Regions from separate parts of the Homo sapiens genome. Here regions 1, 3, 4, 5 and 6 are each linked to region 2. Evidence: fine-mapped expression QTL. A gene starts in region 2. Each other region holds a variant in brackets. All regions are shown on one strand. Distances are between the middles of the regions. Region 1 overlaps SCAMP2 (secretory carrier membrane protein 2). Region 2 holds the start of MAN2C1 (mannosidase alpha class 2C member 1). Region 3 overlaps SIN3A (SIN3 transcription regulator family member A). Region 4 overlaps PTPN9 (protein tyrosine phosphatase non-receptor type 9). Region 5 overlaps SIN3A (SIN3 transcription regulator family member A). Region 6 overlaps SIN3A (SIN3 transcription regulator family member A).

Evidence for each region. PIP is the estimated chance that this variant, and not a neighbour inherited with it, causes the effect. A credible set is the group of variants that fine-mapping cannot tell apart.
Region 1: its variant is the best candidate, but not a certain one, in a credible set for the expression of MAN2C1 in whole blood (INTERVAL, PIP 0.55).
Region 3: its variant is the best candidate, but not a certain one, in a credible set for the expression of MAN2C1 in coronary artery (GTEx, PIP 0.56).
Region 4: its variant is the best candidate, but not a certain one, in a credible set for the expression of MAN2C1 in monocytes after R848 (Quach 2016, PIP 0.57).
Region 5: its variant is the best candidate, but not a certain one, in a credible set for the expression of MAN2C1 in cerebellum (GTEx, PIP 0.63).
Region 6: its variant is the best candidate, but not a certain one, in a credible set for the expression of MAN2C1 in monocytes (Quach 2016, PIP 0.62).

What each region holds. Positions count from the first base shown.
Region 1 is chr15:74,856,712-74,861,784 of GRCh38, reverse strand. The region is part of intron 1 of SCAMP2 (secretory carrier membrane protein 2); the gene reads left to right. Among named protein-coding and RNA genes, the nearest start is that of SCAMP2, 14 kb to the left of the region's middle. RefSeq lists enhancers at 2,195-2,304, 3,683-3,752, 3,983-4,032, 4,383-4,442, 4,473-4,582. The variant C/T (reference allele first, on the strand shown) is at 3,076.
Region 2 is chr15:75,365,929-75,371,001 of GRCh38, reverse strand. MAN2C1 (mannosidase alpha class 2C member 1) reads left to right here and starts at 2,395. Exons shown (of 26, transcript NM_006715.4): 1 at 2,395-2,519; 2 at 2,804-2,929; 3 at 3,368-3,491; 4 at 4,410-4,480. The coding sequence starts at 2,419. It overlaps SIN3A (SIN3 transcription regulator family member A), which reads left to right. Exons shown (of 21, transcript NM_001145358.2): 21 at 1-1,623. RefSeq lists enhancers at 2,220-2,514, 2,199-2,518, 2,090-2,622 and a silencer at 2,649-2,728.
Region 3 is chr15:75,386,188-75,391,260 of GRCh38, reverse strand. It overlaps SIN3A (SIN3 transcription regulator family member A), which reads left to right. Exons shown (of 21, transcript NM_001145358.2): 16 at 1,440-1,609. It also overlaps the pseudogene RPL13P4. Among named protein-coding and RNA genes, the nearest start is that of MAN2C1, 20 kb to the right of the region's middle. The variant G/C (reference allele first, on the strand shown) is at 2,602.
Region 4 is chr15:75,517,959-75,523,031 of GRCh38, reverse strand. All of the region lies in intron 4 of PTPN9 (protein tyrosine phosphatase non-receptor type 9), which reads left to right. Among named protein-coding and RNA genes, the nearest start is that of PTPN9, 59 kb to the left of the region's middle. The variant T/C (reference allele first, on the strand shown) is at 2,899.
Region 5 is chr15:75,405,518-75,410,590 of GRCh38, reverse strand. SIN3A (SIN3 transcription regulator family member A) reads left to right here. Exons shown (of 21, transcript NM_001145358.2): 7 at 305-457; 8 at 600-755; 9 at 3,447-3,536. Among named protein-coding and RNA genes, the nearest start is that of MAN2C1, 39 kb to the right of the region's middle. The variant C/T (reference allele first, on the strand shown) is at 2,741.
Region 6 is chr15:75,433,207-75,438,279 of GRCh38, reverse strand. The region is part of intron 1 of SIN3A (SIN3 transcription regulator family member A); the gene reads left to right. Among named protein-coding and RNA genes, the nearest start is that of SIN3A, 16 kb to the left of the region's middle. The variant G/TG (reference allele first, on the strand shown) is at 2,147.

The DNA of each region.
Region 1 (5,073 bases), 510 kb after region 2:
GGACTACAGGCGCCCGCCACCACGCCCGGCTAATTTGGTTTTGTATTTTTAGTAGAGACAGGGTTTCACCGTGTTAGCCAGGATGGTCTCGATCTCCTGACCTCGTGATCTGCCCACCTTGGCCTCCCAAAGTGCTGCGATTATAGGCGTGAGCCACCATGCCCGACCAGAAAGCCTGTTCTGTATTGCTGCACCATCTTCATAGCTGTGATGCTTAGTGGCGTTGTGGGCCTTCAAGGGGATGCGTACCAAAACATACCTGTGGTCTCTGTCATTGGATGTTTGTTTCGTGCTTTTTTCTCCTATTGTAAGTCCTGGTCCTATGAATATCATTGCAGGTACAGATTTTTACATGTTTTTGTGATATTTTCTTAGGACAGATTCTCAGGTATCAGGTCAGAGAGCACCAAGGTCAATTGTGGCTCTTTGTGCACTGGGACCCAGCTAGCCACTCTGGGGGTGATTGCTTTTTCGTGCTCTGTGACACTCAGCCTCATCTCCAAAGCCAATAGGACTTCACAGAGGTTCCAGAGTGTTGCTGACTCTCTGCCTCTCAGCATGACCCTGAATTTTTAATGTTTTAAAATTTATTTATTTATTTATTTTTCCCTGAGTTGAGTCTCGCTCTGTTGCCCAGGCTGGAGTGCAGTGGCACGATCTTGGCTCACTGCAACCTCTGCCTCCTGGGTTCAAGTGATTCTCCTGCTGCAGCCTCCTGAGTAGCTGGGATTACAGGCACCCGCCACCATGCCTGGCTAATTTTTGTACTTTTAGGAGAGATGGGGTTTCACCTTGTTAGCCAGACTGGTCTTACACTCCTGACCTCAGGTGATCTACCCGCCTCAGCCTCCCAAAGTGCTGGGATTACAGGCATGAGCCACCGTGCCTGGCCAGAATTTATTTATTATTATTATTATTGTTTATTTTTTTGAGACAGAGTCTTGCTCTGCTGCCCAGGCTGCAGTGCAGTGCTGCGCAGTGATCTTGGCTTACTGCAGCCTCCTCCTGGGTTCAAGTGATTCTCCTGCCTCAGCTTCCCAAGTAGCTGGGACTACAGGCATGCACCACCACGCCTGGCTTTTTTTTTTTTTTTTTTTTTAAATGGAGTCTTCCTCTGTATCCCAGGCTGGAGGGCAATGGCACAATCTTGGCTCACTGCAACCTCCGCCTCCCAGTTCAAGCGATTCTCCTGCCTCAGCCTTCCAAGTAGCTGGGATTACAGGCGCCTGCCACCACGCCCAGCTAATTTTGTATTTTTAGTAGATATGGGGTTTTGCCATCTTGGCCAGGCTGGTCTCAAACTCCTGACCTCAGGTGACCCACCTGCCTCAGCTTCCCAAAGTGCTGGGATTACAGGCGTGAGCCATCACGCCTGGCCAATTTTTGTATTTTTAATAGAGATGGGGTTTCACCATGTTGGCCATGTTGGCTGGTCTAGAACTCCTGGTCTCAGGTGATCCTCCTGCCTTGGCCTCCCAAAGTGCTGGGATTACAGGTGTGAGCCACCAGACCCGGCCAATTTTTGTATTTTTAATAGACATGGGGTTTTACCATGTTGGCCATATTGGCTGGTCTGAAACTCCTGTTCTCAGGTGATCCGCCTGCCTTGGCCTCCCAAAGTGCAGGGATTACAGGCCTGAGCCACCGCGCCAGGCCTAAACTTATTTTTTATTTTTACTATGAAAAAAAAGAGACAGGGTCTCGCTATGTTGCCCAGGCTGATCTCAAACTGGATTTAAGCAACCCTCTCACCTCAGCCTCCCAAAGTGCTGGATTATAAGCTTGAGCCACCGTGCCCGGCTGGCCCTGAATTTTTTTTAGTCCGTGAGATAAGATATTTATTTAATGTGTTTATTTGGAGCCTGAAATAAACCTCACACTGGGAGCCTGGGTGGAATACAGGAAGGGAAGGCAAGGAAAAGTCACAGAGAGCTCAGACAGCCAGCACCTGTGAAACGCATGGTATGAGGTTTCCAAACCAGTGACAAGTGTGGTTTTCAATTAGCCGGGCGTGGTGGTATGTGCCTGTAATCCTAGCTACTCAGGAGGCTGAGGCACGAGAATCGCTTCAACCTGGGAGGTGGAGATTGTAGTGAGCAGAGATTGCGCCACTGCACTCCAGCCTGGGCAACAGAGCGAGACTCCATCTCAAAAAAAAAAAAAAAAAAGTGTGGTTTTCATGGCCGTTCCTGGGAGAGCTGCAGCCTAACTCTGCCTGCCTCTCTTCCCTCACTGCCTTTACCCCCCAGCTATGTGGAAGTGCCCCCCTGCCTTGCAGTGGTGGGGGGCCTTACTGATCTGGGCCTTTGCTGTCTGTCTTCCTTCTACAACCTGGCCTTTCTTGAAGCCCACCGAGGTGTCTCCCCTTCTTCCTGTTTTTTGCTCTGCACCTTGCCGTGGTCCCCAGCACCCCTTCAGGGGGTGCCCACTTGTCTCAGATACCAGATTGTGGACTCCAGAAGGGTGAGAGCTGTGTCTTATGCATTGTGGTATGTTCCTCACACTGTAGCTGGTTGCTGAATGAAAAGAACTGAGGTTAAGAGCCTTTTATTTGTTACAAATTCAGTAAAGGGCAATAGCCACTCTGAGTGGCACTGCAGGGGAGTTTTAGGTTATTCCTCCTTGTAGGTGAAACTTAGCCCTCACCATCCTACTTGACCCATTTAAAAGCCAGTTAGGACCGGGCATGGTGGCTCACGCCTGAATCCCACCACTTTCGGAGGCTGAGGTGGGCGGATCACAAGGTCAGGAAATCAAGACCATCCTGGCTAACACAGTGAAACCTATCTCTACTAAAAATACAAAAAAAGTAGCCGGGCGTGGTGGCAGGTGCCTGTAGTCCCAGCTACTGGGGAGGCTGAGGCAGGAGAATGGTGTGAACCCGGGAGAGCTTGCAGTGAGCTGAGATCGCGCCACTGCACTCCAGCCTGGGTAACAGAGCAAGACTCCGTCTCAAAAAAAAAAAAAAAAAAAAAAAAGAACCAGCTCTTTGAAGGAAAGAAGGAAGCAAGGAAACAAGCAGAAGCCCTTGTCAGTGTCCTCCTGGAGTGGGGCTCATTCATCCTGCCACATATT[C/T]ACTGAGCGCCTTCAATTTGTCAGGCTCCGTACCAGGCTTCGAGATGCTTTGCCCCACTCAGCTTTACCATCTTGTGTCCCTGGAGACAGACTTGGATTGAAAATCTGGCTGAGCCACTACCCCTGAGATCTTAAGACAAGCTACTTCCCCTCTCTGAGCTTGAGCTTTTCCAGCTGCAAAATATAAATATTCCTTCCTCATAAGGCTGTTGTGAGGGTTAAATGAGGAGCTGTATTGTAGCTTTTCTCAGCCAGGGTCCCGAGCTGAGCCACAGAACAGAGAAGCTGATTGGAGTGACTCTCTCAGCTCTCTCAAGTATGGAGTATAACTAGTACCACCCTAGGTACCAGGAGAGCAGTAAAGTCATTATAAATAGTGGATTAGGGGGTCATAAGTCTTTTGAAGAACCAGGTCAAGGAAGGCCAGTAAAACCCTCTTTTCTGACAACTCGACACAGTGGCTAGTTCTGGGGTGACTAGAATTTCACAGTAGCATCATTGTGTGGTGAGTTTGGCACACCGTAGACACTAAGTAAATGTCAGCTTCCTTCCCCAGTCCCTCCTCCTCCCTCCCTTTCTTGCCAGGGCTCAGCTTGTCTTGAAGCCACGCACATCTTTCAGAAAGAGCCTAGGTTTTCTTAGATGGGAAAATATCCACTTGTCTCAGCGTTTTAGGTTGCTCTTCCTAGGCAACGTGCTTCCAGGCCCTTGGGCTACTGCTGTGATGCAGGTGCCTCCTGTTTGCTATGCCCTGGCACTTGGGCAGTGCTTTCTAAAAAGAGGGAGGCCCTACAGCGTGCTGCGTGTCTTCTCAAACCGCTGAGCTGCTGTGCTGCCATAGGCCCTTCACCAAGCACCAAGGAACTAGAATATGAACCAGACACAGATGCACATGGCTGCAGGGAGCTTCTAACTTAATCATGGAGATCAGATTTGTTTATGAGGAGCCCGGTGAGGAGTCCAAGGCCATGTCTTTAAGATTTTAGGAAAAAGGGAGGGATCAGAGTGGACAGGGCAGTCACCCTATGATCCCCATCACAGTCCCCTTCTGTCTGCCATTCATAAAGGAAATGGCATCTCTTTGTGGGCCTGGAGATCACCTATTAAACATGTGCACCTTGGCCAGATGTCTGTTTGCCATTACCTGAAACTGCTACCAGAGTGGCCCCTCTTCCTCTGTCCTCTGGTGACTCAGACTCGAGGAGCCACTTCTGTGGATGGTAGATCCGATTTCAGTGACTTCAGCGGTGGCTAGGTGTCTGCTGAGTCTGAGAGGGGAACAGATACCAAGCCCCAAATCTTCCTTGCAGGAAGCCAGATGATTCTGGTAGTAAACCACTGGTCATTCAGGCATGAAATAACCTCAAGGCCAATTCTTCAGCAACACAGAGCCTCCTGAACTTCACCTTGTCACTTTGTCCAAGTTGCAGGAGCCATCAGGGCAGAGGTGGTGTTCAGCAGGAAGAACATAGCCACAGTCTGTCGCAGAGGAGGTTGGAAGGGGTGGAGGCTGTAGTATGAGGCCCGTCCAGACACAGTGAGTTCTGGCTGTATGCCTGGAGGCAGTCAGACATTCATACCCTCTATGAACTGGTGGCTCAGGTGGGAAGATAAGAGATAAGAGGAAGTATCTGTGATAAAACCAGAGAACATATTCAATGCTGACCCTCAGCTCTATAAATATTCAGAGTAAGGAGAGAGCTCCCATTTTGGGTCCTAGGATCATGGTGAATATCAGTTTCTACATCTGTAAACTGAGGGGGTCACTCTGTGGCTATGTCTAATATTAGCATTGTATTTAACAATTGGATCTGGACAGGGCAAGGTGGCTCACATTTGTAATCCTAGTGCTTTGGGAGCCCAGGGTGGGAGGACCACTTGAGCTTAGGACTTCAAAACCAGCCTGGGCAACAAAGCAAGACCCCATCTCTACAAAAAAACTTTAAAAATCAGCCAGGCCTGGTGGCTCATGTGTGTAGTCCTGGTTACTCCGGAGGC
Region 2 (5,073 bases):
TCTTCCCCTTTGCCCCCAACTTTTTTTTTTTTTTTTTTGTAAATAAATAAAGCTTGGTTCTTACTTAAGGAATAAACTCTCAACCCACGTCCCTTGTCCTCACCAGAAAATACTGTGAAGCAGGGATTTTGACTTCAGTTCCTTATCCAGGGTAGAAACAGGATTTTGCTTAAAATACTTGTTACTTGTCCCAAATCAAAATATTCCAAAATCTTAGAATACTTAAGTCTTTTAGTACGTGTTTTTTTCCCTTGTTCAAATAATCTGAAAATATTTTATATTTGGGTAAGTTGTCAAGCTATGTAGTTTGTATTTCTATATATTTTTTCTTATTCACATTGGTGATGGATGGGGGTGAGCAACTTAAATACCAAACCAGTGTTTGAAAAAAAAGTGTGCATAAGGCATGTGGTATACCTTATAAATGGAGTTGGGAGGGAGAGAATTTGAAATGGGATACCTATTTTTTTAATTACATAAATTTAAACTAGCAGACATTTAAACATGAATGATTAGGATTTTTCTATGTGGTTAACCTGGACTTTCTGAACAAAGACCAACTGAGCCCCTCCCAGTACTCTGGTGGATTTTTCTTCAGCAACCATTACGCAAGTCTTAGTTGTAACCAGCAATGTTCTGTGTGTTTTATGTTTGCTTTTTAGTTAAAAATCACCACCACCACCAAAAAGAAAAACAAAATTTTTTGGCTCCTGGATTTTCAAAACACATGGTAGACCTCTCTGATTTTAGGCTTTTATTGTTTAAAGACAGTGTCTCGCTTTATGACCCACACTGGAGTGCAGTGCCACGATCATAGCTCACTGCAGGCTTGACCTCCCAGGCTCAAGCAGTCCTCCCACCTCGGCCTCCTGAGTAGCTGCATGCCACCACGCCCAGCTAATTTTTTAACTTTTTGTAGAGACAGGGTCTTGCTATGCTGCCCAGGTTGGTCTCAAACTCCTGGCCTCAAGCTGTCCTCCCACCTCGGCCTCGCAAAGTGCTGAGATTACAGGTGTGAGCCACCCTGGCCTGATTTTAGGCTTTTTTTGTACTGGGGAGAAGAGACTGTGAGCCAAAGTGTAGGGTGCCAAAAAGAGCTTTGTGGGATGAGATTTTAGGGCAAAGCTGGGGCAGTGTCTGACTTGGCGGTGGTCATGTGTACTGATTTAGGGGAAAGATCTTGAGGTTTTCTCAAATAATTCACCTATCCCCGTGTTCCCTCAAGAAAGGTCATGTTGACCTGGAACCATAGGGGAAATTGGTGGGGTGTGATCAGGGTCAGCCCCAGCTGTTGCTGCCCCTGCAGTGTTTTGTCCAGAGCACTTGCCTGCAGGTCAGGATAGGATTTCAAGGCCAGTTCAGGAGAAAGTCCCAACCCACCAGTGCAACCAACAAAAGAGTAAGTTTTACCTACAGCCTGGGTTTTCACAAGTAGCATTTTTATTCCTCCTGCTGTCTGACATCTGAGCTCCAAGCTCTAAACCCAACCTGTATTATATGCAGCAGCAGGTTATCTTTGTTTTAAATCACATTTGTTATTCTGTACTTAGTCACCTTTCCGTGTGATCTGCATTTGAAATGTTGTAAACTTGGTCAGTATTTCCATTAAAATATCAGGGCTAATCTTGTGTATTTTTTTTTGTTCCTAATGATTTTATAGACAAAGACTCTTGGCAACCCCAGGAGAAAAAAAATAAAGCTGTCAGTGGAGTACTAGGGATGAGAATGAAACTGGAGGTCTGTTTCTGGTATTATGGCTTCCCGGGACTCTACAGTCCTGTATGGTGAAATACATTTTTCCATTGGGATCGTCAATGCCATGACTGTTCTGCCACCTCAAACTCCAGAGTTTCTGGTGATGTGCAAGAGTTAGCAATATACATTCAGTAAAGCGTGTAATCGAGTAAGTCGTAGTAACTTGGGCGTAAAGCTCTACCACCCTGCTCACTAACACCCTGATCTCCGTCCGGTATGAAAACACCTATTCCGGGTAGTCTGGCTCCACGTTAAGCAAACACCACTTTCCGTGTTCACCGACAGCTAGAGCCAGAGGTCTCCCGGTTGCTGCTTCTGAGGCTGGGTCTGCAGCAGCTGAGGCTCCCGCCTGTCTTGCCGAATGGCCTAAGTCTCTGTCTTGAGACTTTCGAGAGTTCTAATCGTCAAATTTCCCATTTTATTTTGAGATTTTCCCTGCGGCCCACTATTTCGGACAACATAGGAGAGCCTCAAAAACAGTTTCTAGCTTCCAACTCGGCTCAAAGTTCAGACAGCAGCTGGGCTTCCGAGAGCCGCCGGTGTTCCAAGAAAAGCTGCCCGGGACTGGGAGGCGCCCTCTGGACGCCGGAACCTTTGGTTTCCTGCCGTGGAGCGGAACGGTAGCGCCAGGGGCCTTCCGGAAAGAGGAGCGAGAGCCCGGCGATGGCGGCTGCGCCGGCCTTGAAGCACTGGCGCACCACGCTGGAGCGGGTGGAGAAGTTCGTGTCGCCGCTCTACTTTACCGACTGTAACCTCCGCGGCAGGTGTGGCCCCTGGTCCCCCGCAGCCGGCCGACCGCAACCGTGCGCCTCAAGCTTTCCTTCCGGGGAGAAACCTAAGCTGCAGCCACCCGGGCCGCGGGACAAAGTGCCCGCCGCGGGCAGGGCAGGGGCCGGGGAGGAGGGGGTAGGGAATGGACTGTGCCGCGGAGCGGCCAGGCAGCCCTCTTGGCGGAGGATCCAGGGAAAGTGCGGCCCCACCGGCCAGCTGGCCCCCAGGCGGAAACGGGGCGGCCTCCAGCATGTGCCCACCGGCCCGTCCCACGCAGGCTTTTTGGGGCCAGCTGCCCTGTGGCTGTGCTCTCCAGCTTCCTGACGCCGGAGAGACTTCCCTACCAGGAGGCAGTCCAGCGGGACTTCCGCCCCGCGCAGGTCGGCGACAGCTTCGGACCCACGTAGGTAACGCCCAGCGGGTGGGCGGGGCCACAGGCCTAGGGGAAGTCCCAACCCAGCTCCCAGCCACACCTTCGTTGTCTGCCCTCTGCCGTAGACAACTACGTGGGATCGAGCAGCACCCTCTGCTGGGAGCAGCACCCTCTGCTGGGAACAGCTCTCTGGTCCCTGGGTCTTCAGGGGATGGTTTTCATTCCCACGTGGCCGCCTCTGGACATCCCTTAGGAAGGGCACCCTAGGGATCACGAACCTTTGACGCCTCTGCCTGTTTCCCTCATCTTGCTTCTCACCTTGTTGCTCCTTTCTTGTGACTCAAAGCTGAGTACCTTGTGACACTGCAGATGCTTGGAGAGTTTCAAGCCCCTGCCGACACTTTATCCAAGGAAGGATATCAGGATAGGACTTCTACCTCTAGGCCTATCACAACAGCTCTCTTGCAGATGGTGGACCTGCTGGTTCCGGGTGGAGCTGACCATCCCAGAGGCATGGGTGGGCCAGGAAGTTCACCTTTGCTGGGAAAGTGATGGAGAAGGTCTGGTGTGGCGTGATGGAGAACCTGTCCAGGTGAGGAACCCTGTCCTAGGGCCAGGTATGGCCACATTTCAGCCCTGAAATGACTACAGCCCTTCTTCTGTGGACTCTGGAGAAGCCACAGCTGAGTTGCTCTGCCCACAGGGTGGTATCAGGATTTCAGGACTAGGGAAGTTGCCACTTGGGCATCTGTGCAATTGGTCCTTAGTTTTTATTGTGTATAATACAAACTTATAGGAAAACATTTCAAACAGTTCTAGATAAAGTAATGGATCTCTCCTTATCACCCATCCCATTCCCCAGCTATAACCACTGTTAAGTGTCTTATTCATGCTCCACCCTTATCAGGTTTAGTCCTTATACTCCTATCTAGTAGGTCTTTATACCCATTTACAAATTAAGAAACAGATGTGTAGTTGACTCACTCAGGTTCACACAGCTTCTATTTCAAATTGGACTGACTCTCAATCTGGGGTTAAGACTGTTCTTCCTGGCTACAAGAAGGCAGAGACCATCCCTTCCTCCCTTCACTGGCTCAGCAAATATCTCCTGGTGTCCATTCTGGGCCATACCCTTAAGCACTAGGGTGTAGCAGGGAATGAGGCAAACCTGCCCCTGACTTCACGGAGTTTCTTTCCCGGTATTTATTTAGGGGTGCAGAGGCCACCAGAATCCACACTCAGGCTGCCTAACCCCTTCCCAGGGCCCTTCCCATAAGACCATGGGTTTGCCACTGGTAAACAGGGGCTATTTGACGGTCATGGTGCTGGCTGCCATGGGAGTTGGGGCATCTACTGCCAAGGGTCCCTGATTTGCCAATCTTGGCCCTGCTTGGGAGAGAGGACCCAGAGCTGGGAACCAGATGGAGGGGCCTGACTCCCCATGGCTTACACTTTACCTGAACTGTCCAAAAGCCTCAAGCCTTGTCTCTCTCACTCCCCTCCCTACTAGGGTTTAACCAAAGAGGGTGAGAAGACCAGCTATGTCCTGACTGACAGGCTGGGGGAAAGAGACCCCCGAAGGTGAGTCCCTGTGCCCTGGTTGACCAGTGCTGTCAGGGAGGGAGTACCAGTGAGCAAGGAGGAGCTGAGGCCCAGAGTGATCTCATAAGCCCGCCTCTGCTCTAGCACAATCATCCTCACATCTCATTGTTTGCTTTTAAAAGCATGATTTTTTCCTAACCATAAAAATAATGGGCTGGGTGCAGTGACCCACACTACCCTGGGAGGCTGAGTGGGAGGATCACCTGAGCCCAGGAGGATGAGGCTGCAGTGAGCCATGATCACACCGCTGCACTGCAGCCTGGGCAACAGAGTGAGACCTTGTCTCAAAAATAATAGCAATGTTTGCCTGTGGTAAATACAGGAAAGCACAAAGAAGTAAATAACTACCGTTATTCCACTCCCTAGAATAGAGATGAACATTATTAACATCTCAGCATTCATGTTCTTTTTTTTGAGACGAAGTCTCCCTCTGTCGCCGATGCTGGAGTACAGTAGCACGATCGCAGCTCACTGTACCTTCTGCCTCCCAGGTTCAAGCGATTCTCATGCCTCAGCTTCCCGAGTAGCAGGGATTACAGGTGTGTGCCACCACGTCCAGCTATTTTTTTTTT
Region 3 (5,073 bases), 20 kb before region 2:
GATAATGCCAACCCTCACACTTACCACAGCTTGTTTGGACAAATCTGTGGTTTGGACTCAAAACTTTATTCTGGCATAAAAGCAGTTTTCATAGCAGTGGTATATTTTGGAGTCTATAGCCTATACCTATTCTATGGAGCTAAAGAATGTGATAGTCTGTGATGAAACTCAAGCCAGTTGCCTCTTTTAAACAGTATTTGTCCTGTTTTGCCTGTTTTTTAATGAATTCGTCAGACTTCAGATAAATGGAGACAACTTGGTTTTGCTCCTAGCCTTTTTTCTCCAGCACAAACACAACTAGCAAGTAACCAATTAGTCAGTGACAAATAGTTCGTTTTGTAACTTTTTTCATTTTAGTCAACTTTTTGTTGAAGTGCAATGTATAGGCCGGGTGCAGTGGCTTACACCTGTAATCCCAGCACTTTGGGAGGCCGATGTGGGAGGATCACTTGAGGCCAGGAGTTTGAGACCAGCCTGGTTAATAAGTGAGACCCCATCTCTACAAAAAAATACATATAAGGTACGGCATGTATATATAGAAAAGTATACAAATCAGAATTGTGCAGCTCAGTGAATTTTTACAGACTAGACGTACCTATGTTCAAGAAACGAAACATAACCAGTACTCTGATAACCAGTCCTTTTTCCACTTTGTTGATTTCTAACACTAGAGATTAGATTTGTCTATTTTTGAACTTTATATAAATGGGTCTTTAGTAAGCTAAAGGCAGCACTCTTTAATACTCCTTGTGCCCTCTGCTAGTTGCCAAATGTCTTTAACAACTGATGAGATTTATTCTAGCTAGTGATTGAAATGATTCATGTGCAGCAACTACAGATGATTTAATGCAATTTGTGAAATACAACGTAGCGAATCCATTTTTAAACAAAAGGACTTTGACAAATGCAGATTACTTCATTATTCATAAAGGATTTAATTTGCACTCCTATTTTTGTGTTCCCAAGAGGTTTCCCAGTGCTGGAGTATGGCTGTGTCTGCCTTTCCTCATCTGTACTTTATGCTTCATTGAAATAGCTTTATGAGCAAGTGACCCATGTGAGGAATGCTCTTGTGCAGGCTGGGAGAGTAGGTTCCTCTCTCAGCAGGGGAGCCAACAGCTCTTTGAAGGACTGGCTTCCCTAGGATATTTTCCTCTCTGAAAGTGGCCCAGCAGTACCATAAAGAAGTATCTTTCTAGCATGGTAGTCAGAATATTAGAAGCCACTGTTAAAGTTGCAGAGTCACTCTGATAGTGCTGGTGATTGTAGTCACCTGTCGGAATTCATCTCTGTTTACATTGGAATGAGTGAGTATATTTTGAATACCTAGTGTTCATACTTTCAAATGCCATTTAGGCCAGCTGTGGGATTTGCCCTGTACTCTATCCCTAGTCTTTTCTTAGCAAGGTAAGGCCTCACCAATCCCATCTCTCCCACAGTGGATGTTGATGTAGAAGATTATTACCCAGCTTTCCTGGACATGGTGCGGAGCCTGCTGGATGGCAACATAGACTCATCACAGTATGAAGATTCACTGAGAGAGATGTTCACCATTCATGCCTACATTGCCTTTACCATGGACAAACTGATCCAGAGCATTGTCAGACAGGTGAGGGCATGGAGGAGGCTAGGGTGAGTAAGGGAAGAAATCCTTACCTAGAGATGGGCCACGCAAGGAAAAGGAAAGGCAACTTTTTCATATAACAGTGTTTATGAACGTAGGGTTCTGAAGAGAGGAGGGGAGGTTAATGTGATGCCTGATTTCTCATGTTAACAAAGTTGCAGTGTATGAGCCTGCCTACCCCATATCCTTTCTTGCTGGCCACCTGTAGAGTGCAGTGGTCCTGACCCCAGCTTCCTGCACAACTTGTCTATCTCTTACCTTGTCTGCCATGGGTAAGCACACAGTGTGGAACATTGCGTCTTCCATAGGTGTTGGTAAGTTTTTTTTTTTTTTCCTTAAATAGAGACAGGGTGTCACTGTTTTGCCCAGGCTGGTCTTGAACTTCTGGTCTCAAGTGATCCTCCTGTCTTGGCCTCTTAAAGCGCTGGGATTATAGACACGAGCCACTGCGCCTGGTCAAGGTGTTGGTAACTCTTATGTACTTGCATTGTTTAATATTTGAAATTCTTTTTATAAGAAAGGGTTCACATAACATCTTTTATAATACTCTGCCCACCTCACTCATCTGCGGTTCCCTCTAAGTTAGGTTTCTGGTTGGTTTTGTGTGTTCTTCCTGTGGCACCCTGGGAACTTGTAAACATGTTGTTCTTTACAACAATGATATAAAAAATAGCTTGTAACAGATAGTCACATTTCTACTTCTTGGACTTGAGTTCTGAACTCCCAGAGAGATTGTTGGTTAACTGCTTTTTTCTTTTTCTGGAGACCCAGCTCTACTGCTGATTGACTGCAAGTCCCCAGCAGGGCTTCATTTTTCCTTTTCAGCATCCTGTTCTGTGGCTCCCTTGGCCCTTTTTGCCCATATGCCAAAGAGCTGAAAATTGATGTGGGCTGTGTGAAGACTGGCAAATACCTTAAAGTTCTTAGTGATGATTCCAGCTTTCTCCTTCTTATAGACGTACTATATGGGCATTATT[G/C]GTCCTGTCAGCTGGGTGGCTGATTTGAGTTTTTCAGAACTGTCTCCCTTCTTGGGGGCTAAGAGCTTCCTGGAGAAGAGGTTGAGCTTGGAGTCTTAACTCCTTCAGGTGCTGAACATTGGCCCACAGGGACATGGTGTACTAATGCCACCCTCTTGTGGATGCTGGTCACCCTTAACTCTTCTAAGCTGAAGCCCCTGCCAGCTTGTACTTTGGTGTGGTACCTCACTGTGGGGCAGCTTACCATGGGTCAGATGGGTCCAGATGCAGGGTGCAGGTCAATGTGGTATACTTTTGCTTGCATCTGCAGATCTTCTGGGCTGGCTGGTTGAACCACGTGGCCATGGGCCACTGCGATTCCTTGTGGAAGTAGGGCTTTAGGATCATGCTGTTCCACCTGGGTACCGTGGCTACCTACAGCCCTCTTCCATAGAATAGCTCAGCAGAAAGGCGGTGAAGTACTTAAGTGAAAACTTGTAAAAAGCAATTTCTAATTCTAGAATCCACACTGCCACTGTAGAAGGAAAGAGCTTGTTGCTTAATGTTCTCTTGGGCTAAAATATTGAATTCTTTGCAAAGTACCCATGCTTTTGCCTTGGTTTTGGAAGGGTGCATGCCTCTGTACTCCTCCCACAGTATCTACACAGGATTGAGGAAGAGCCCTTCATATAAATGAACCTTAACATCTGGGGGAAAGTTGTCAGATAGTTGTTTCCAATAAGTTGAAGAAGTTGTTAGGCCTTCCCATAAGAGGTCTGGATGGTAACTGGCAGAAATCATTAGATGGATACATAGTCACCCATAGTCATACTTTTTCAGACTAATCTTCCTTAACTTCCCTGAAATTTATATAAAATACAGACTCCAGTTACCCTGTGCTTATGTTGCTGATTACAGGCTTGCTGCTGCTTCAGCTAGGAACGAAGTCTTTCATACCACCAGCACAGCTTAAAAAAAAAATCCAATAAAACTAACTTTTAATAATTCTGAGGTTGGTTTTCGAAACAATAGTTACAATTATTTACTGTATCTGGTTATGATTTTGAATCAGTAATAAATACTATCTCCACCCACCCCCCGCTTTTTTTTTTTTTTTTTAATGGAAACAGGTTTCATCCAGAAAACCCCAAAACAGTGACTTTTTTTTTTTTTTTTTTTCCAACCCAGGGTCTCACTCTATTGCCCAGGCTGGAGTGCAGTGGTGTGATCAGCTCACTGTAGCCTTGACCTCCTACCTCAGCCTCCCAAGTAGCTGGGACCAAAGGGGCCACCACACCGGCTAATTTATTGTATTTTTTGTAGAGATGGAGTTTTGCCATGTTGTCCAGGCTGGCCTCAAACTTATGGGCTCAAGCAATTCACCTACTTCAGCCTCCCAAAGCGCTGCGATTACGGGCATGAGCCACTGTGCCCAGCCTACAGTGACTTTTTAAAACATTTTCAAGCTTCTCAACTCCTTTAACTGGAGGTATCTCTTCTCTCATTCTCCTCATATTTGGTGTTCCCTCAGATTCCACTGCTGACTGAATGTACAACATATATTTCAAAGTCAAGGCTGGTCATGGTGGCTCATGCCTCTAATACCAGCACTTTGGGAGTCCAAGGCGGGCAGATATATTGAGTCCAGGAGTTGGAGACCAGCCTGGGCAACATGGGGAAACACTATTTGTATTAAAAATACAAAAAATTAGCTGGGCATGGTGGCACATGCCTGTAGTCCCAGCTACTCAGGAGGCTAAGGTGGGAGGATCATCTGAACCCAGGAAGTTGAGGCTGCAGTGAGCCGTGATTGCACCACTGCATTCCAGCCAAGTGAAGCCATTACATTTATCTTACCTATTGTAGGCTGGCTTAAGAGGGATTTGTATTAAGAATACAATAGGCAACCTCACAGACATCCAAGTACAGAACTCAAAATAGGACCACACCATGGAAGGATTGGGCTGGGAGGTGATTTTTCTCTCCTGCATGCCTTCACTCTGGACTTCTGCTCCATGCTTGTGCTTTGCTCTGCAGATGAACATACGGCATGTGCTCCAGGCTCCTCCAGCCTCTGAGGCTTTGGCTTGCCCTCCCAGTACCCCTGGTCCCAGTGTTACTAGACCTTTCCATACAGATGCTCCTCCTCAAAAAATCTATTGAACACCCTCTCTGTCATCTCCAATTAGCAAGATAGAGAATCTGATCTGCTTAGCAGTGGGGGTGGGAGTTCCGTAGCTGTCTCTGGATTTGTAGTGCTGTCTTTTCTGAAGACTCGAGGAGGGGCCAGATATCCAAAAAGAGAGTATGGGTGGGGAATCAGTAATACAGTCTACTTCAACAAGAAAGTATAAAGTAGAGGCGGTGGCTCACGCCTGTAATCCCAGCAGTTTGGGAGGCCAAGGCGGGTGGATCACTTGAGCTCAGAAGTTTGAGATCAGACTGGGCAACATGGCAAAACCCCGTCTCTTCTGAAAATACAAAAAAGTTAGC
Region 4 (5,073 bases), 150 kb before region 2:
ATTCTCCTAGGATGTGCCCTGGGCAATGCTATGAATAGAAAACAATCCATGTCCTTTAGAACTCGGCATGTTTGCAGGCACTATCAAGATGGTGGGCGTTCTCTTTACCACCTTGGCTCTATGTCAGGAAAACAGAAGCTGAGAAAGTCAATTATCGGCAATCTTCAGTGTATGGAAAACTACTTATTGGAAAAGAATGAGGGGGAGATGACCTGTGCTGGTTCTTTTTGCTCATATCAGAACCTCTAAGGCCTCAGTTTCTTTGTCTGCATAACAGGAATAATGCCGTTTAGTTCAGAGGATTTTGAGACTCAACATTCAGGGGAGGGCTGGGTGCAGTGGCTCACACCTGTAATCCCAGCACTTTGGGAGGCTGAAGCAGGTGGATTGCTTGAAGCCAGGAGTTGAGACCAGCCTGGACAACATGGTGAAACCCTGTCTCTGATAAAAAATACAAAAAATTAGCTGGGTGTGGTAGCGTGCACCTTTAGTCCCAGCTTCTTGGGGGAGGTGGGGGAGGTTGCTGAGGTGGGAGGATCACTTGAGCCCAGAATGGTGAAGCTGTAGTGAGCCATGATCACGCCACTGCATTCCAGCCTGGGTGACACAGCAAGACCTGTCTCAAAAAAAACCCCACAAAAAAGCCCACACAAAACAAACAACAACAACAAAAAAACATTCAGGGAGAAGCCCAGAAGTATAAAGTTAAGCAAAAACCATCCTTAATAAAAAGAGGTGCATAAGCATAAAGAACCAGCTCAGGTCATCACTCTCTTCCTGCTAAGGTAATTGGTATTGTTACAATTCAATTGACAATTAAACTCAAGCCCCAAGAAGTTTTTTACAGTCATCATATGTTAGTCCAGCTGGTTCTAAGATCCTGGTTTCTTCACTCTTGGGCAGAGTTATTTCTGTCCTCCCATGCTGTTGTTCTGCTATTCCTTTTTCCCTGGTGCTTGTAATTTACAGTTTCTTACTGCTCTCGACATCTTTGGCTGGTCCTCCGGATTAGAAGTGCTATATTGAGGCCAGGCGCATTGATTCATGCCTGTAATCCTAGCACTTTGGTTGGCTGAGATGGGCAGATTGTCTGAGCCCGGGAGTTTGAGACCAGCCCTGGGCAACATGATGAATCCACTCGCTTCTTGAGGGCAGGAAACTTTCTTTTTAACATCCGAATCTCTGTAGGTTGAGAGAGAATGGTATCGTGAACATCCACATATCCATCATCCGTCTTCTTCAAAGTGATCTGTAACAGTCTTGTTTCATTGGTAGCCCCTCATGGATCTCCTATCCTCAGTTTCTTTCTTTTTTGTTTTTTGAGACTAGGGCTTGGTTTGTCACCCAGGCTGGAGTGCAGTAGCATGATTGTAGCTCACTGCAGTCTTGAACTCCTGGACTTAAGCAATCCTCCCATCTCGGCCTCCCAAAATGCTGGGATTACAAGCATAAGCCATTGCATCTGGCTTCTCCGTTTTTTTAAAACCAATGTCAGGGACTGTATTTTAAACTTCTTGGTGTTTTCTGTAACATGTAGCTCAAGAATTAAAAAAATATTTTTTTTATTTTTTTTTTCCTTTGAGACGGAGTCTCGGTCTGTCCCCCAGGCTGGAGTGCAGTGGCGCTATCTCAGCTCGCTGCAAGCTCCGACTCCCGGGTTCGTGCCATTCTCCTGCCTCAGCCTCCCGAGTAGCTGGGACTACAGGCGCCTGCCACCACGCCCGTTTTTTTTTTTTTTTTTTGTATTTTTAGTAGAGATGGGGTTTCACCTTGTTAGCCAGGATGGTCTCGATCACCTGAGCTCGTGATCCACCCACCTCAGCCTCCCAAAGTGTTGGGATTACAGGCGTGAGCCACCGTGCCCGGCCCATTGTAAATCTTAAACTGGGTGCAGTGGCTCATGCCTGTAATCCCAACACTTTGGGAGGCCAGGTGAGAGGATCGCTTGAGCCCAGAAGTTCGAGACCAGCCTGGGCAACATAGCAAGGCCTCGTCTCTACAAAAAGTTTAAAAATTAGGCAGCCAGGCATGGTGGTATTTGCCTGTAGTCCCAGACACTCACGGAAGGCTGAACTGGGAGGATCACCTGAGCCCTGGGAGGATCACCTGAGCCCTGGGAGGATCATCTGAGCCCTGGGAGGTCGAGGCTACAGTGCGCCATGATTGTGCCACTGCACTACAGCATGGGCAACAGAGTAAAATGCTGTCTTAAAAATATATATATTCTGGTGGCTCACGCGTGTAGTCCCAGCACTTTGGGAGTCCAAGGGGGTGGATCTCCTGAGGTCGGGAGTTTGAGACCAGCCTGGCCAACATGGTGAAACCCCGTCTCTAGTAAAAATACAAAAAATTAGCCAGGCGTGGTGGTGGGTGCCTGTAATCCTAGCTACTCGAGAGGCTGAGGCAGGAGAATCACTTGAACTTGGGCGGAGGTTGCAGTGAGCAGAGATCGCACTATTGCACTTCAGCCTGGGCAACAAAAGCGAACTCTGTCTCAAAAAAAAAAAAGTATATGTATATATATACACACATATATAAACACACACACATCTATCTATCTATCTATCTATCTATCTATCTATCTATCTATCTATTCTATACCCTAAAGTGTGAAAATCTTACTGCATTCATGTTTTATGTGCCTTCACAGGATGAGCACTTTGATCTGGGAATATAGAACCTGGATCATTCATTATGCATCCAAGCTTCTTTTTTTTTAAATTCTCTTTGCCCCCTCACTGACTTGTTTTTGTTTTAGTCCCCTGCCACAACCTGGAGTCATGAGGGGAAAGCCCATAATTTGAATTTGACCCTTGAGGAGCTCATGGAGAAATAGAAAGTATCTAGATCTGGATAGCCTATTCAATAATTGTGCCACACATTTTCTTTGTTTCTTTT[T/C]ATTTAAGAGACAGGGTCTCACTTTTGCTCGGGCTGAAGTGCAGTTGCATCATCATAACTCACAGCAGCCTCAACTCCTGGGCTCAAATGATCCTCCTGCCTCTGTCTCCCAAGGAGCTGGGACCACAGGCACGTACTAATAAACCCGTCCAATTTTAAAATTTTTTTGTAGAGGCGGAGTTTCACTCTGTTGACCAGGCTGGTCTCGAACTTCTGGCCTCAAGCAGTCTTCACATCTCAGTCTCCCAAAGTGCTGAGATTACAGGTGTGAGTCACTGGACCTGTCCTGTGCCACACATTTTAACAGCATCTTGGACCTTTGTGGATCATAGTCTCTCTGGGGTTGTGAAAAAGGAGTCAAGGGCAGGGCGCAGTGACTCACACCTGTAATCCCAGCACTTTGGGAGGCCGAGGGGGGCAGATCACTTGAGGTCAGGAGTTTGAGACCAGCCTGGGCAACATAATGAAACCCCATCTCTACTAAAAATTAAAAAATAAGTAAAGAAATAAATAAGAAAAAGGAGTAAAGATTTAACACTAATGTAACACATTAGGTGCCAGTTGAAACTAAGTCTGCTGGAGAAACTTTCATGTACCTCAGAATTAGACATTTTTGAAATGTTAGCTCATGGGCGGGTGCTTCTGCCTTGGAATTTGTTAAAGGGATGAAGATATGGAGGTTCCCAGGAGGTGCTGGTGCAAAAATAGTAAGATACAAAATAACTTTGAGGCTGGGCATAGTGGCTCACGCCTGTAATCCCAGCACTTTGGGAGGCCGACGTGGGTGGATCACCTGAGGTCAGGAGTTCGAGACCAGCCTGGCCAACATGGCGAAACCCCGTCTCTACTAAAAATACATTAGCCAAGTGTGGTGGTGGGCACCTGTAGTCCTAGCTACTCGGGAGGCTGAGGCAGAAGAATTGCTTGAACCCGGGCGGCGGAGGTTGCAGTGAGCCGAGATCCCGCCGTTGCACTCCAGCCTGGGTGACAAGAGTGAAACTCTGTCTCAAAACAAAAAACAATAACTTTGAGACTCCTGATTTCAGGAATGAGTTTTGTGCCAAACATTTTCTCAATTCTAAATAGATGTGAAAACTCTTGCTGTCATCTGTGAGTAGTCCAATCAAATAATTTATCCTAATGACCATTTGGGTCTGCAGATCACATATAAGTACGGATCTGGCTTGGTGGAAGAGTACATCTTTGAGAAATCTTTATAAATCTGGGAAATTGGACTGAGGAATACTTTCTGTATCTTCAAATGTTCCTCAGTTTGGTCTGGGAATAGGCTTACTTTTTTTTTTTTTTTTTTCCCCTGAGATGGAGTCTCGCTCTGTTGCCCAGGCTGGAGTGCAGTGGTGCAATCTCGATTCACTGCAACCTCTGCCTCTTGGGCTCAGGCAATTCTCCTGCCTCAGCCTCCCAAGTAGTTGGGATTACAGGCATGTGCCACCATACCCAGCTAATTTTGTATTTTTAGTAGAAATGGGGCTTCACCATATTGGCCAGGCTGGTCTCAAACTGCTGACCTCAGGTGATCCACCTGCTTCAGCCTCCCAAAGTGCTGGGATTATAGGTGTGAGCCACCACACCCAGCCATGGCTTACTATTAATACCTGTTAATCTACTTTTTTTTCTTTCTTTTCCCTCTTTTTTTTTTTTTTTTTAAATAGAGTCAGGGTCTTGCCATGTTGCCCAGACTGGTCTTGAACTCCTGGGTTCAAGCGATCCAGCTGCCTTGGCCTCCCAAAGTGCTAGGATTACAGGCGTGAGCCACTGCGCCCAGTCTTACTTTTTCTTAAGACAAGATCTCACGCTGTCTCCCAGGCTGGAGTGCAGTGGCATGACCTCCCTGTAGCCTCGACCTCCTGGGCTCAAGTGACCCTCCCACCTGAGCCTCCCAAGTAGCTGAGACTATAGGTCACTACATGATGAGGTATTGTCATGTTGCCCAGCCTGGTCTCAAATTCCTGGGCTTAAGCTATCCACCATCCTTAGCCTCCCAAAGTACTGAGACTACAGTCATGAACCACTATGTCAGCCTTAATCTACTTTTTAGGAATGCTTTCCAAAGGCCATTTATGGGTTTGTTCTCTTCCTCCATGGGGTCATAAGAGACAAATTTACTATCAATGAGCTTAGAGGCAGTTTTGTTCTACACAGTTTTTCACAGGT
Region 5 (5,073 bases), 40 kb before region 2:
GTGTCTCACGCCTGTAATCCCAGTACTTTGGGAGGCCGAGACAAGTGCACTCCAGCCTGAGCAACAAGAGTGAAACTCCGTCTCAAAAATATTTACTACCCTAGTTTTGAAAGGAATTGTCATCCACCATCTTCAACTTTTTTTTTTTCTCAACTTGAAAGTCTGTGGTCAGAACGGGTGCTAAGAACATAGACTTTCTTCTTACATGCAGCCTAAATAGATAACAGTGATTCCAGAAAGCGTGCAAAGATGAGTGACTCAAAACAGTAGCCCAAATGATCTCTTTTCATTTGCAATTCCTCAGAAAGAGCAGAGAAATGCCAAGGAAGCTGGAGGAAACTACACTCCAGCATTGACAGAGCAGGAGGTGTATGCCCAGGTTGCTCGTCTCTTTAAAAACCAGGAAGATTTGTTGTCAGAGTTTGGACAATTCCTACCAGATGCCAACAGCTCCGTGGTATGTTTTTTTAATAAGAATTACACTATTTACTATTATTATCTTAGATGAGTTGGAAAACTGTGCTCAGAAGGGGACTTTTCCTAGATGATATTTGTTTGCTTTGATAAGAGCATTAATCTCATTCATGTGTCTTAATCAGCTTTTAAGCAAAACAACTGCTGAGAAGGTTGATTCTGTGAGAAATGATCATGGAGGCACTGTCAAGAAGCCCCAACTGAACAACAAGCCGCAGAGGCCCAGCCAGAATGGCTGCCAGATCCGCAGACATCCTACAGGAACCACCCCTCCAGTTAAGGTGAGAATGGGCAGCAGCTGCTCATTTTGACACTCACAAGTATTTCTAATGGAGAGGTACTCTAGAGGTGGTCATGTGTTTTGTTGTTGTTGTTTTTTTTTGTTTTTTTGAGACCGAGTCTCGCTCTGTCGCCCAAGCTGGAGTGCAGTGGCACGATCTCGGCTCACTGCAACCTCTGCCTCCCGGGTTCAAGCGATTCTCCTGTCTCGCCCTCCCGAGTAGCTGGGACTACAGGCGCATGCCACCATACCGGGCTGATTTTTTTTTTTTTTTAGTGGAGACGGGGTTTCACCGTGTTAGCCAGGATGGTCTCGATCTCCTGACCTCATGATCTGCCCGCCTCGGCCTCCCAAAGTGCTGGGATTACCTGTGCCCGGCAGTCATGTGTTCTTAAGTGTGTTAACGGTTGGGTCCTAGATATTTGGAGGAAGTTAGTATTGTGTCACAGAAACTCAGTGCAGAGTTTATCTGGCTTTGCAAAAGAGTATTAGAATAACATTGATTGCTTGGATTACTGTACTTTTCTGAGTTCTTTATTATCTCTCCTTTGCAATGAGCTGTCATTTCTTTAATGTTTTGGTTGCTACTAAGAATTTCCAATACTTGAAATTTTTTTCCCTTCTTTTTTTTTTGAGATGGAGTCTTGCTCTGTCGCCCAGGCTGGAGTGCAGTGGTGTGATCTCAGCTCACTACAACCTCTGCCTCCCGGGTTCAAGCAATTATCCTGCCGCAGCCTCCTGAGTAACTGGGACTACAGGCGTGTGCCACCACGCCCAGCTAATTTTTGCATTTTTAGTAGAGATGGGGTTTCGCCATGTTGGCCAGGCTGGTCTTGAACTCCTGACCTCAGGTGATCCACCCACCTCGGCCTCCCAAAGTGCTGGAATTACAGGCGTGAGCCACCGCGCCTGGCCCCTTCTTCTTTGATGCTTTAAATCTGCCTTGTGTTAAGAAAGAACATTCTTGAGCTTGAGAATTATTTCAGAAATAAGTGGTCTCTGAGGTCCTCTTGTGAGTAGAGTGCATGTGTTTTTTGAGATCTCTGGTCTAGAACCCTGTCCTGCTCAAAGTTCTTTGTTGGGTTACCAGATCTTATGTGTATCATCTTAATCTCCAAGGCAGGACCTTTGGGCTGTAGCAGAGGGAAGTCTTAAACTCCTCTTAGTAATCCATTACATGATGTTTTTTGTTATAGTTAACACTGATGGTCTGCCTGCAGAAAACTTAGCTTGCTCCCTTCTTTGATGTAACACAGCTATGATAGGGAGAGGGCTAGTTGTATGTATTGAATGTTTAATTCTTCAGTGAATTTCAAAGCAGTATGTAATATAGAAGAGACAGATATGTCTGCAGAATTAAATAATGACAAAAGTTTGGGAATTTCTAATAGTAAGAGGTGGCTGATGAATAGTGATTGACTGACTACAAGGTCTGACGTACTAGGTGTTACTGACACTTTTGAAGTATCCTTTTCATTAGTGTTTGTCATGGTTTCTTCTTTTGAAATCTTTTGAAATCAAGTTGAACATAATAATGGTTTCTATTTCTTCATTTCAATAAAGAGAATTAGTTATATGGGTAGCAAGAATCAGCTCAGTAGATACACTCCATGCTTGGATTTACGTCCGCCCACTCTTGATTACCTACAGGTGGCAAGAATATAGTGGGGGCTTAAAATTCTCCGCCTACTTTCTCCATAGGCAGTGTAAGCAGAGGCTGCGGCTCTTAAGAAAGTATACTCTGAGATAGCCAAGGTAAATGTGCTACTTCTCACAAAGTTTGTGCATTTCTTCATAGAGAGTAAGTGGTGGATTTTAAAAGTAACTTCTTGCCTGACAGGATTATATCATGGCCTGTTGGTTCCCTTTAGAAGAACAATATTAAATTAGTCTGAGTGGATATTGCTGGCGTGCCTTTTTTTTTTTTTTTTTTTTTTTTTTTTTGAGATGGAGTCTCACTCTGTTGCCCAGGCTGGAGTGCAGTGG[C/T]GTGATCTCGGCTCACTGCAGCCTCCACCTCCTGGGTTCAAGCGATTCTTCTGTCTCAGCCTCCTGAGTAGCTGGGACCATAGGCGCACACTACCACGCCCAGCTAATTTTTTTGTATTTTTAGTAGAGACGGGGTTTCACCATGTTGGCCAGGATGGTCTCAATCTCTTGACCTCATGATCTGCCCACCTTGGCCTCCCAAAGTGCTGGGATTACAGGCATGAGTCACCATGCCCAGCAAATTATGCTTTTTAAGTAAATTTTTAATTGAAATATTATTCAGGGTTAAAGATTGATTTCTGTCAATTTGTGAGCTCTTTTTACAAACAGCCTTTTCTCCCTCAGCTGGTAGGAGAACAAAACAGTGGCATTAGATTCTACATGAAGTTACTTTGGGCCCCTAGAAAAAGTAAGGATATTCTAAAAGTTTGTCACAGTAATGTCATGATCATTTCTGGAGAAAATATTTTGGGGGTAGAATGATCTTTGAACCTCTGTTGTAGAAAGAAACTTAATAGGCAAACTGAAATAGAAAATATGAGTTGAAATCTTAGAGGGTATGGAGTGAGTTGGTTAGAGTTCTCTCATTTGTTTCAAATTATTAATCAGCAGTGGTTTCAGTGATGAAACCATTGAATACAGACAAAAATAAAATTCAGAGAAAACCACTCGTTGAATCTCACATGTTTGTATCTTTCTTTTGCAGAAGAAACCCAAACTGCTCAATCTGAAGGATTCTTCTATGGCAGATGCCAGCAAACATGGTGGTGGAACAGAATCGTTATTTTTTGATAAGGTGAGTAATGGATGAGTTAGATTTGATAGTGCCTGTTAATGCCAAAAGAAAATCATCTTATCCCCCTGGAAGGTTTCGTTTTAAAGGTGTCAGGCTAATTAGGACTTTCTGTTTTTTAACATAGTTTCCCAGTTGTGAGTCCTTTGAGTCTGCTAGTACTATTAGCATAGCTAGAAAAATGGTAGCATTGTTTGCTTTGGTTTTATGAAGCAGTTTGGGGCAGAAGACAGATTTTTAGAAAATGTATTATGTTTCTCTTGAAAGATGTTTGGAGCTCCCATTGTAGATATCCAGGTCTGTGTGGCAGGCAGTACCAGTGCCTGTACCAATTTTTGAGGATTTAAGATGACTTGTAATCTTTTTTTTTTTGAGACGGAGTCTCGCTGTCGCCCAGGCTGGAGTGCAGTGGCGCAATCTCGGCTCACTGCAGGCTCCGCCTCCTGGGGTTCACGCCATTCTCCTGCCTCAGCCTCCCGAGTAGCTAGGACTACAGGCGCCCACCACCTCGCCCGGCTAATTTTTTGTATTTTTAGTAGAGACGGGGTTTCACCGTGTTAGCCAGGATGGTCTCGATCTCCTGACCTCGTGATCCGCCCGCCTCGGCCTCCCAAAGTGCTGGGATTACAGGCGTGAGCCACCGCGCCTGGCCGATGACTTGTAATCTTATTGCTGTGATAGTTATTTGTAGTACACACATACATAGCATTCAGGGGAATTCTAATTTACTTGCATGTTTTCAAAGCTACCCAGCTGATTCTAATGAGCAACGAGAGTTGAGATTATTGGCATAAATGATGTTGTGTGGTGCCTTAGTTTGGCCACATAAACTTAAGTGTGATTTGCTCCTCGGAGTCAACTTGATGATTAGCAGGAAACTTTCATCAGGGTAGCTGGCACCTGTTGGGCTTCTCACTGGTAGGAATCAACCTGGATTGATCTGTGGTGATTGACTCTATTTTCTGCCTCTTGGGTTTTGCAGAAGGGCAGATGATTTAACATCTCCGTGATTAGTATCTCCTGATCCCTTTCTGTCTGCTGTGCCTATGTGAGCTTTTTGCAGGAGAGTCCTGCAAGAGTGTTGAGTCCTTAGCTCTGATGTGAATCATTACCAAAGTCTGCTTGGGCGGTTGGTGCTCTTAGACAAGTGTGGAAGTCTAGATCACAACCAATAAATGTCAAGAAAAGGGTATGGAAGGGAAGCTATTATAAATTAAGAATTAAGAAATATATAAGCCAAATGTGACATGCAGACTTTGGATTCTGAATTTAAAAGCTGATTTATTTTTATTTTTATTTTTATTTTTGAGACAGAGCCTCACTCTGTTGCCCAGCTTGGAGTGCAATGGCGCAATCTTGGCTCACTGCAACCTCCGCCTCCCTGGCTCAAGCGATTCTCCAGCCTTAGCCTCCCAAACAGCTGGGACTACAGGCGCCTACTACCGTGCCCAGCTAATTTTTTCATTTTTAGTAGAGACAGGGTTTCACCATGTTGGCCAGGCTGGTCTTGAACTCCTGGCTTCAGGTGATCCACCTCAGC
Region 6 (5,073 bases), 67 kb before region 2:
GATTCTTGTGTCTCAGCTTCCTGAGTAGCTGGGATTACAGGCACCCACAACCACACCCGGCTAATTTGTTTTTCGTGCTTTAGTAAAGACAGAGTTTCGCCATGTTGGCCAGGCTGGTTTTGAACTCCTGACCTCAAGTGATCCGCCTGCCTCAGCCTCCCACAGTGCTAGGATTACAGGTGTGAACCACCGCGCCCAGTTTTATTATAACACATGGCCAGGTGACTTTTAGGACCTGTAGGTGTTTTTTTTGTGTGTGTGTATTTGGGATCTTCCTCTGTCGCTCAGGCTGGAGTGCAGTGGTGCAATCTTGCTTAATCTAACCTCCACCTCCTGGCCTCAAATGATCCTTCCTCCTCAGTCACCCAGAGTGCTGGAATTACAGGTGCAAGCCACTGTGCCCACCAGGTGACCTTTAAATGTTCTGCTGCCATTATTTAGTCTTCTCTCCATAGTTTCTATACGTCAAAGTGCTTTTTTTTTCTTTTTATAATGTCTTCCTAGACTAGAGTTCTGATAGTACTATAAACTCCAAATTTGAAACAGATGGAGATCAACCATGTTGGCTGAAGCGGGACTTGACAGTACTTTTGTGGCTGACTTTGTGGTTCCATCGTTTGGCTTTCTTTATATTCTAGAATTACACTGTACCCCTCTGCAAGCGTGGTTTTACAGTCTTGTCCAATGTTTCTACTTTAGATTGTTCATATTCCAAGGAGGAAGAATTTAACCTCTTGCTCTTTTAGTCAGGTATGTGACCTTGAATAAGTCATTTAATTTGAGTATCAGTTTCCCTCAAAAAAAGAGGGGTCTGGCTGGGCGCAGTGGCTCATGCCTATAATCTCAGCACTTTGGGAGGCCAAGACAGGAGGATTGTTTGAGGCCAGGAGTTGGAGACCAGCCTGGGCAGCATATCGAGACCCTGTCTCTACAAAAAATACAAAAGTTAGATATGGTGGCGCTGCCTATGTCCCAGCTACTTGGGAGGCTGAGGTGGGAGGATTACTTGAGCCCAGGAGGTTGGGGATGCGGTGAGCCGTGATAGCCCTGCTGCACTCCAGCCTGGTGGACATAATGGTATGCTATTGCAAAAAAAAAAAAAGGGTTCTGGGACTGCCTATCTGACAGGATTGTTGCGAGGAGGACATCAGCTGATAGCAGTCATACATGGAAGACTTGGCTGTTGTCGGGGAGGAAATCTCTGGCTCAGTGCTGGACTTCTAACCCTCCGCACAGGGCCAGGCATGTCTTAAGCACTTGCTAATTATTTGTGGGATGAATGACTTGGCAAAGATTGTAAATAACTATTGCCTGCAAGTCTAAACTTACTATTTTAATTTCATGCTCTATACCCCTGTGTTCTAATTCATCTCTAATTTTCAAGATGTAGCTGAATATTTACCTTTATAGAGTCTTCCCAAGTGTACCTGTCTGTATCCCTTTCCCAATTTATAGTACTTATTTTTTCCACTCAAGAGCTGGTTTGTATTGTTGGCTTTTCTTCCTGTTTTTTTTTTTCCTAATCCTCAGAACCTGTGGATGTTTTTTTCCAAGACTTTATCAAGAAAATTTCCAAATACACAACAAAGTTGATAGAATTTTAGTAAATATAATGAACACCCATATACACACTACCTAGATTTTACCATTATCATTTTTCTACTACTAGGTTTAACATATGCCTGTCCATCTATCCATCGCTCCATCAATGAATCTGATTTTTTGATGTATTTCAAAATAAATTGCAGACATTAGTATACTTCATCTAAGCACTTGAGCATGTTTATCATTATCTAGAGTTTAATATTGTTTATAGCATTTTTCTTTTTTGTCCAGGCTCGAGTGCAGTAGCGAGATCTCAGCTCACCTCAGCCTCTGTCTCCTGGACTCACATGATCCTCCCACGTCAGCCTCCTAAATAGCTGGGATTACAGGTACATGCCACCATGCATGGCTAATTTTGTATTTTTTGTAGAGATGGAGTCTCGCCATGTTGCCCAGGCTGGTCTTGAACTCCTGTGCTCAAGAGGTCCGCCTGCCTCGGCCTCCCAAAGTGCTGGGATTACAGGCACTTTGTGAGCCATTGTGCGTGGCTAGCATGTTTTTTCTTTGTCTTTTTCTTTTTTGTTTTTTTTGTTTTTTTTTT[G/TG]AGACAGAGTCTCACTCTGTTGCCCAGGCCGGAGTGCAGTGACGTTATCACTGCTCACTACAACCTTGCAGCCTCAACTTCTGAGGTCAAGAGATCCTTCCACTTCAGTCACTGGAGTAGCTAGTACCATAGTTGTGCGCCACCACTTCCAGCTAATTGTTTCTTTATTTTGTAGAGACAGGGTCATCCCATTGTTGCCCAGGCTGGTCTCCAGCTCCTGGGCTCAAGCCATCCTTGAGCCTCAGCTTCCCAAAGTGTTGGGATTACAGGCATGAATCACTGTGCCCAGGCACATTTTTCTTTCAATGCAAATTTTACATACAATGAAATGTACAAATCTTTAGTACATTTTGTATGTGTATATATACATACATGAGATCATGCTGTATGTATTCTATAGCTTACTGTTTTCTTCTTCTTTTTTTTTTTTTTTTTGAGACGTAGTTTCACTCTTGTTGCCCAGGCTGGAGTGCAGTGGCGCCATCTTGGCTCACCTCAACCTCTACCTCCTGGGTTCGAGTGATTCTCCTGCCTCAGCCTCCTGAGTAACTGGGATTACAGGCATGCGCCACCACGCCCAGCTAATATTTGTGTTTTTAGTAGAGACAGGGTTTCTCCATGTTGGTCAGGTTGGTCTCGAACTCCCAAACTCAGGTGATCCACCCGCCTCGGCCTCCCAAAGTGCTGGGATTATAAGCGTAAGCCACTGCATCCGGCCTAGCCTGCTGTTTTCACTTAATATGTCTTAGAGTTCATTCTTTGTACTTGTGGATAAACCCTGATCTTTCTGATTCCTACATAGTTTTCCATAATATGCATGATCACATTTATTTAGCTGATAGATATTTAGATTTTCATATTTTGCTGCAATAAATATACTCAGCAGATGTGTAGGATACAGGCCTGAAAGTGGAATTGATAGTTTCAGTATTCCAAAATCTAGTATGTTTTAGAGTTCATTTCTTATACTCGTGGATAAACTTTGATCTGATTCTTACATAGTTTTCCATAATATGCATGGGATGGGTATGCACATTTAAAATTTTAATAAATACCTACAAGTTGCCAGCTAAATAGGCTGTACCAATTAAAGCCTCCTCCATCAGTGTTTCCCTGTATCCTTACCCACACTGTCATCTTTTTTTTTTTTAAATTGCTTTGGAGTAAATTACTTTTTTTTTTCTTGAGGCGGAGTTTTGCTCTTGTTGCCCAGGCTGGAGTGCAGTGGCGCGATCTCGGCTCACTGCAGCCTCTGCCTCCCAGGTTCAAGCGATTTTCCTGCCTCAGCCTCTCGAGTAGCTGGGATTACAGGCATGCACCACCATGCCCGGCTAATTTTGTGTTTTTAGTAGAGACAGAGTTTCTCCATGTTGATCAGGCTGGTCTCAAACTCCCGACGTCAGGTGATCCACTCGCCTCGGCGAACCAAAGTGTTAGGATTGCAAGTGTGAGCCACGGCGCCTGACCTTTTATTTTTTTTTTTTTTGAGACAGTTCCACTCTATTGCCCAGGCTGGAGTGCAGTGGCGCGATTTCGGCTCACTGCAACCTCCACCTCCCAGGTTCAAGTGATTCTCGTGCCTCAGCCTCCTGAGTAGCTGGGATTACAGGCGCCCACAACCACACCCGGCTAATTTTTGTATTTTTAGTAGAGGGAGGGTTTCACCATGTTGGCCGGTCTGGTCTTGAACTCCTGACCTCAAGTGATCCGCCTGCCTCGGCCTCCCAAAGCGCTGGGATTACAGGCATGAGCCACCGCGCCCGGCCTACTTTACACGTTTTTTATTACTAGTGAGGCTATATATGGTTTTAGAGGGCAAGGGCTGAAATCATCTACCAACTTCATATCTACTCACTGAACATTTGCTTTTAATGAATGAATGCTACTAAAGCATTTCTGCTTTATTAGGTTTAGGCTGAAGAAGGATGAGTTAGCTAAGTGTGTGAAAGGTTAAAAAAAGCTGAACTTGCTCCCTGCATGTGTGCCTTAAATAAGTAAAGGGATTCTTCCTTCACTTCTTCTCTTCTGTGAGAGGTAAGGTAGTGAAGTAGTTAAGAGCCAGGCTCTGGAGACAGATTTCCTGGATTTATATCACAGCTTTGCCTCTTACTAGCTGTGCAACCTTGGGCAGTTTACTTAATCTTTGTTTTTCAGTTTCCTCATTCATAAATTAGAGAACACCTTGCTTATAAGGTTGTTGTGAAGGATGATCAGGGCCTGAAACCAGGAGGTATGATTAGAGCGGAAGCAATTTATTTGAGAGAGAGTTAGGAATAGAACTTTGAGTGGTAATTGTTTGTTTGTTTGTTTGTTGTTGTTGTTTTTGAGATGGAGTCTTGCTCTGTCGCCCAGGCTGGAGTGCAGTGGCATGATCTCGGCTCACTGCAAGCTCTGCCTCCCGGTCCACGCCATTCTCCTGCCTCAGCCTCCCGAGTAGCTAGGACTACAGGTGCCCGCCACTACGCCTGGCTAATTTTTTGTATTTTTAGTAGAGACGGGGTTTCACCATGTTAGCCAGGATGGTCTCGATCTCCTGATCTCGTGAGCCACCACGCCCGGCCTATGAGTGGTAATTGTTAAAGGAATAAAGTATGGTTCAGAGAAAGTTCAGCCTCTGTAGTGTTGTAGAGGTGGTATGGAAAGCAAACTCTGGAGGTGGATGAAGTTAAGTACCATATGAAATCCCAATCACTTAATAAAAGAAACGATATTTTAACAGCCAAAAGATAGAGTATGATATCAGAATAAACCATAGTACTGTAATACTTAATGTATGAAAAGCTCACTACAATCTTCTTTTTCCTTATAGACTGGTTCATAAACCAGCATTTGGAAATCACTAATGTAGGCTGATCCCCTCCTTTTGCCCCTGTTTGAAAACAGGGCCAAAATTAGAAAGCTTCATGGTAGATAGAGTTTGGAGTAGA